Linked DNA regions of Homo sapiens: region 2 is reported to be linked to region 1. Evidence: microRNA targets listed by miRTarBase, many of them from high-throughput screens and not tested one by one. Region 1 holds a microRNA gene; the other region holds the end of a gene's coding sequence.
Evidence for each region. Region 1 holds the annotated microRNA hsa-miR-1909-3p (CGCAGGGGCCGGGUGCUCACCG, at 1,627-1,648, shown strand). A microRNA usually pairs through its seed, bases 2 to 8, with sites in the 3' UTR of a target mRNA and lowers its output. Matches are read on the target gene's strand: a 7mer-m8 pairs with bases 2 to 8, a 7mer-A1 pairs with bases 2 to 7 and ends in A, and an 8mer does both.

Region 2: the mRNA of CLCN5 is a reported target of hsa-miR-1909-3p. The part of its 3' UTR that is shown has no 7-base or 8-base seed match.

What each region holds. Positions count from the first base shown.
Region 1 is chr19:1,814,416-1,817,816 of GRCh38, reverse strand. It overlaps MIR1909 (microRNA 1909), which reads left to right and starts at 1,579; the gene lies at 1,579-1,658. REXO1 (RNA exonuclease 1 homolog) reads left to right here. Exons shown (of 16, transcript NM_020695.4): 11 at 37-110; 12 at 488-598; 13 at 1,004-1,119; 14 at 1,248-1,386; 15 at 1,472-1,592; 16 at 1,663-2,569. The coding sequence ends at 1,751.
Region 2 is chrX:50,091,491-50,094,891 of GRCh38, forward strand. CLCN5 (chloride voltage-gated channel 5) reads left to right here. Exons shown (of 15, transcript NM_001127898.4): 15 at 639-3,401. The coding sequence ends at 729. Among named protein-coding and RNA genes, the nearest start is that of MIR502, 79 kb to the left of the region's middle.

The sequences.
Region 1 (3,401 bases):
GGCCGGGCCCTGACTGTGTGTCTGTGTCCCCTGCAGTGGCCGGAGGCTGGGAGACCCAGTACATGTGCTGCTCGGCTGCCGCCGGCTCTGTCGGCTGCCAAGTCGCAAAGGTGAGCCCTGGCGTCCCAGTCCCCTCTGCCTGTTCTCAACAGACTTCTGCCTCCCCATCGTTGGTGTGGGGTCTCGGGACACAGCACAGTCCTGGGCTCAGGGTCTGGGCCCCCGGGCAGCCTTTCTTGTGTTACCCAGAGAACGTAGCACCCGTAGGCCCCAGGCCCTGTCCCTGGCCACTTCCCATCCTGGGAAGCCGTCCTCCCTGTGTCTTCTTGGCAAGCCCCCTTCCCCACCTGCTCACCAGGGTCCCAACCAGTGAATGGGCGTGATGGATGGATAGGATGGTCCCGAAGGGCTCAGAGATGTGCTGCTGCTGCCACCCCCGCCCCCACTGCACCCCGAAGCTGCCCTCACCTGCCTTCTCCACCCCCAGCAACACGTGCAGGATGGCCGGAAGGAGCGCCTTGAGGGCTTCGTGAAGACCTTTGAGAAAGAGCTCTCAGGAGACACCCACCCGGGGATCTACGCCCTGGACTGCGAGATGGTGAGGCTGTTCTCTGCCCAGCGTCGGGTTCAGGATTGGGGAGGACCTGGCCTGGTGCGGCCGCCCCATCTGGCCCCATCTGGGCCTGGCTCACCGGCCAGCGCTCAGGGTTTCTCTCGCAGCACCGGTGCCTGTGGCTCCTGCCCTGGACCAACACCCCATACTTCCCAGCAGAGCCAAGCACACCGGGCACTGGGCCCCGGCTCTGCCTCTGAATGGGAGGCAGGAGGGCTTTGCGAAAGGGGGTTACTGAGGTCACACCCCACTCGGCCTCTCCTAGAAGTCCCACAGAGTCTCTGGTCACTGCCTCTGCCTGGAGGGGCTCTGGAGACTCAAAGGGGCAGGGAAGGGGAGGGAGGGAGGCCGGTGCCTGGGACACATCTGAGGTGCATCCCTTGCCCGCAGTCCTACACCACATATGGCCTGGAGCTGACGCGCGTCACGGTGGTCGACACGGACGTGCACGTGGTTTATGACACCTTCGTGAAGCCTGACAACGAGATCGTGGACTACAACACCAGGTGTGGCCAGTGCCCTCCACGAGCTGGGAGCCCTCCCAGCCGCCTCTCCCCAGGGACCCACCCTCCCCCGCCCCACCAGCCAGTGCTTCCAGGCTGAGCCCTGGTGCCCCTCCTGCCCGTTCCCCCAGGTTTTCGGGGGTGACGGAGGCTGACCTTGCCGACACAAGTGTCACGCTGCGTGACGTCCAGGCCGTTCTGCTGAGCATGTTCAGCGCTGACACCATCCTCATCGGACACAGCCTGGAGAGCGACCTCCTGGCCCTGAAGGTGCCCTGCCGGCCCGGGTCCCGCGCGGTTCTCCAGCAGGACCTGCGCAGGCCCCACGTGCGCTGATCTCTGCCGCTGCCCACAGGTCATCCACAGCACCGTGGTGGACACGTCTGTGCTCTTCCCCCACCGCCTGGGCCTCCCCTACAAGCGGTCCCTGCGGAACCTCATGGCCGACTACCTCAGACAGATCATCCAGGACAATGGTGAGTGCCGGTGCCTGCCCTGGGGCCGTCCCTGCGCAGGGGCCGGGTGCTCACCGCATCTGCCCCGCAGTGGATGGGCACAGCTCCAGCGAGGACGCCGGCGCCTGCATGCACCTGGTGATCTGGAAGGTTCGAGAAGACGCCAAGACCAAGCGATGACGCCTGCCCGCCTCCCACCCGCCTCTCCTGCCGTCCCGCTGGTCCTTAGCCCCATGCCTCTTCCAAAACAGTGCAATAAATCTCCGGTAACCCGTCCACCTGGCCGAGGCAGCCCAGAGCAGCGGGATGAGCTGGCGGCCAGAGAACGCCCAGCCCAGCCCACCCCCGCTCACGTCCTGCCGCACCCCTCCGCCGGTCCCCACCCTCTGCCCCCCAGCCCTCTGGCGTCTCTAGAAACTGCTGCTGATGGAGACCAGGACAGAGCCCGCCCCCACCCGGCCCGCAGCCCCTCCTGCCCCTCCTGCCAGGCCCTCCCTCCCGGGTGGTGGCCGGCACCTCTGCTCCTCACGTGGGTCGCGGGGCGGGCTTGTCCCAGGTTTGTTTGAGACAGTCTTTTTTTATTTTGTATTGTTATTTTTATTATTTTTAATTTAAACCTGATGACTTGCACAGCATCTTTCCCACCGGGAAGAGCGGGCCTGCTGCCTTCCCTCCTGCGGGGTGGGGGTGGGACAGACCCCAGTGGGGGCCAGGGCCACACTCAGCGCAGTGTGGGCTGGACCCGCCTCTGTGCTCCAGGGGCTGGCCGGTCTTCGGGGGCGCCGGCTTCCACCACTCGCCGCCCCACCCCTGCACTCCGTGACCTCTGAGAACCCAGCTGGCCCCTCGTTAGCCCCAGGGTCTGCCGTCTAGAGGGAGCCCACCGGCCTCCGGACACTGTCTTCCCGCTAGAGCCCCGTCCTCCTCTGCGGGGCTCTCCGGACCCCCTTCCCCCTCACCTCCAGGCAGGGACAGAATAAATGTTTGTATGGATTTTAGATTTTGTGGTGGTCTTGGTCTTGGTGCCTGGTGAGGCCTCTGCATGTGCCCCGGGGAGGCCACTGTCCCTGCAGCCGGGACTGATTCTCTTCCCATCAACGCAGAGAAAACAGAGCAGTGAAACTTTCCCTCACAAAAGCTGGCCCAGGGCTGGCTCCCCCAGGGCTGGGCCACACCTGCTGTGGGGTCCCAGTTCCAGCCCCAGATCATGGGCCACCATCCTGCAGCTTCTAGTGCCTCTCGGACAGTGGGTGGTGTCCCCAGCCCTGTGTGGAGCTGGGCCCTGTGCACAGAGCTGGCTTCCCTCTCTGCCCTGCCCAGAGATAGGGACTGCACACAGATGGTGAGAGGGGGTTAAAGAGACTGGGAGCTGCTGTGTGTTGCCCGTCAAAGGATGGAGTGCAGACACGGAAAGCTGCTCCGGCCCTTGCCAGGAAACGCCACACATTGTGTAGTGCACGCACGTCTCGGGCAACTGTGGTTGCATCGGGACCCCATTTGGAAATGGGAGGCCCAGGGGTGTTTAGGCCCCACTTTTTATTGACCTCAAGTAGAAAAAGTGATGAGCCTTGCGGGACAGGACCCAGCAGCTGGGGGCAGGTTGCCTGGAGTGGGTTTCCTGCCACCCTGGTCTTGGGCTTCTGCTGAAGGGCAAGGCCAAGGGCACAGGTCCCGGGATGAGGACGTGGGGGCCCTCCCCAGAGGACTCCATCCCAAGGCTCCCTTCCCGGTTCTGGGCTCTGCATCTCTCCAGGGCCCTCCTGGGGGACCGTGGTTAGGCCAGGCCCTTCCACCCTCGAGGGCTGTTCTTGTGACTAGTGACTCTCCCAC
Region 2 (3,401 bases), not on the chromosome of region 1:
TTCACATCTGAAATTTCTAAATGGTGTAACAGATGCCTTGCAGGATTTAAATCAGTAAGGGGAGTTCCCTAACTGGTTCATTCAACATCTGCTGAATCCCTGCTCCATGTAAGAAGGTACTCCACTGGATTCCAGGGAGACACAAAAATTAATAAGACCCTTCTGTGCCCTCAAGGAGCAGACAGTGTTTTAAGGAAGGCAAGAACCTAGCAGTGGTTATAGTACAATAGCAAAGAGGACAAGTGCCACTGAGGAGGCCTGCAAAGAATGTGCATGCTGTTGCTGTGAGGAGGGCAGAGTTCCTGCTGGCTCATAGAATCAGGGAAGGTGCTCTGGAATAGGGGCGTTTGAACTGGGCTGCAGTAGATAAGATTCAGATATGTAGCGAAGAGTATTTAAACCAGAGGAAATCGCAGGGTCTGAGACCTAGAGGTAGAAACACTTGCATACATTTAGGAATCCACACATCATCCTATTTGCCTGGGGCACATGTCCTACTCCTGTGATCTCATACTGAAAGGGCAGCTAGTGATCAAAGACAAAGTTGAAAAGGACTGAGGAGGACAAGTATCACCTTTGGGAATGCTATTTTAACTACAGATTTATTTTTGTTTTTTTGTATTGTGTTTGTCTTTTAGGCGATTGCTTGGAATCATTACCAAAAAGGATGTGTTAAAGCATATAGCACAGATGGCGAACCAAGATCCTGATTCCATTCTCTTCAACTAGAATCATAGAGTTCTGGATGTAAAGCGGGAAGGACATTACAGACCATGGATATGTTGTATTAACTGGGTACCCAAAACACATTTTCCATATTTGGATGGTGAAGTCACATTAGTGTGTTGTCTCTTTCCTACAAGTTAACCAGTTGCACTACATAATCTCTGGAAATTAATTTTCTCTTTAGGAGAAATTATAGTTAGGCTTCCATGATGTTACATTAGGAAGATATCATGAAAGAATAAATAAGATTGCTATGGTTTAATTATATTTGCTTTTTAAAAGATTTTTTTAACTTAAAAAGTAGTTAGCCAATATGCAATCACTGAAAACTATGCAAGAGAAATTCCAACCGTCCTGACCTATAACCTGTAGGAAACCGACGAAAAAGTCACTCTTTTGGGATCTAACTGTTGTTACTGGAAGACGAAGTGTAAACTAAGGGGCTTTGCTTTTCAAACCAGAGAAAGGAAAGCCAGAAGGAAAAGAGTAATGGTATTTTCTAGACTGTGAAGATTCAGTTCAAATGTTATCCTTGTTCCTGTTACAATATTTAGCATTATTAGTTTGTTATGTGTGTATGTTTATGTTAATTTTAATTTCTGATTATAAGACAATGCTGCTTTGGTTAATCTCTTCTAAATGAATTTAGAGAGATTGACTTTTATAGCTTGCTTGTTGCTGGTACTCTTTTGAAGTGCACAAAGATAAGTTATAGAGCTTTCTCCTTGTCTGCAAAAACGGTAATTTTCCAGGTGGCATTTGTTAGCTGGTAGACAAGGACTTTGCCGTGAATTTGTTAGTAGCAAGGAATGATTTCTTCCAGCTTCCTTGAAATGAATAATTAGTAAACTTCTAAGCAAAGTCAATGACTAGGAGTTTCACATGTTTGTGAGGTCCTAACTAATTCTCTTACCCAGATGCCACCTCCATGAATGATGGTGCTTTAGGCTTCTGGAATATGTAAAAACAGCAAAGGGAACCAAGTCTAGACTGCATACTGGTAAACCAGGGAAGACTCAGAACTGCATATGCATCCTCATGCATTCCTTTGTAAAGACCACCAGTACTAAAATAACTGGACACTCATTGTACCTCCCAGCGATAAGTATGTGTAACAGGCCAGTGTGTTGTCCCCATGATCATGAATTAGGCTTGGGATGCTTCCAAATATATTCAAGGTGTTGGAACAGGATAGGCAGCTGTGACTCCCTCAAGAGTCCTTAGAATTCTAAATAAAATGCAGAGCCATCCTAAGACACAGGGGTATGGACAAGGCCTGGTGACACCAAAGGTGCTTGTATCCAATTGAAAAGGTGCCTGTCTCAATTTCATACCACCTTTATTGCAGTTAAAAAAAAATCACACTCTGGGGACACTTGGTGGAATTACAGAGCCACCATCATCATTCCAACCACTATTTCATTTTCTGTAGTTTTACCTGTGTGCAATTACTCCCCCTCCATTCTGTTCCACTTCTTACTCCTTAGTACCAAATCCTCTGTTTGGGATTGAGCGCTGCTCCTGGTTAATCATTCCTACTACAAAAAAAAATAACTCCCAGGGCTAGTTAAATTGTAAACCAAGGCTCAGCAGTCTCACAACACATGGACCAGAGGTGACACACAGCCATTTCCTTTGCCATGTGGCCCAGTTGCTGCTGCCATGCCTCCATTTCCACACTGGATGCCTACGGCAGTGAGATTTCACTGCCGGGGTAAGAGTTCAGCCTGGATGATTTTATAGCTCTGTTCCTAGCACTTCTCATCATCCTTCCAGCCCAGAATCAGCGGTCATTCTGCATATTCCCACCAACCCTCTACCCCCAAACACTTCAGTGTACCTCATTTTAAGAGTTGCTGATCCCTGATTCTAGGACGTTTTTACCCATAGTTCTTGTCTTTCCAAAATCTGAAATTCTTTTTTTTGCTCAGAACTGGGTAGCCAAGGGTTATTTTATTTTTATCTTTAAAATAATCAAGGCAGTCGCTAGAGTTTCTCCTTGTGAATAGATCACTCTAGCATTTTAATGAAAAAGAAAAAAATCTTTCTGGGGTATGTTGTATCATAGTAATGGCTCAGTAACCACATATTTTGTCCTTTCCATGTCACTGATTCCTTCATATGAGACTATTTGGCTTGACTACCCTGTATATTGTGTAGAAATCAAAGTTCTTATCTGTACATTTCTGGTCCAATACCTGTCTTATTAGTTGTCCTTCCCCACTAAAGTTTGCAAAACAGAAAATGTTACTATTTCTGGTATTTAATGACAATGAAAGGTTTGGTCATATTTCATAGTGCAGTAGCGATAAGGAGGGTGTCTCAAGTTTGCTTTTGTGTTTCTTCTAGGCTTTGTTCTTGATTTTAGACAGATGAGCCAGTGTTAAGGTGCTACTTCAGAGAATAAATTAGAGAAATCAGATAACACTGTGCCAAGGTATACTTTGTAGATGCTAAGCACCGATTGGCCCTCCAGAGAATGACAATATCCCTTTGATACCTCACTCCTGATCAATCTCATTCATTAACCTCAGCTTCTCAGGAATCCTTGTAGCTTGTATGCTAGAAGTAGCTATGGTATATGGTATCCACTATATGTCCAGTCCTATGGTTTGGCTCAAAGGTTGGCTAATTGCAGCTAGAGCTCTCAACTGCTAGCTCAGCACCTTGACATT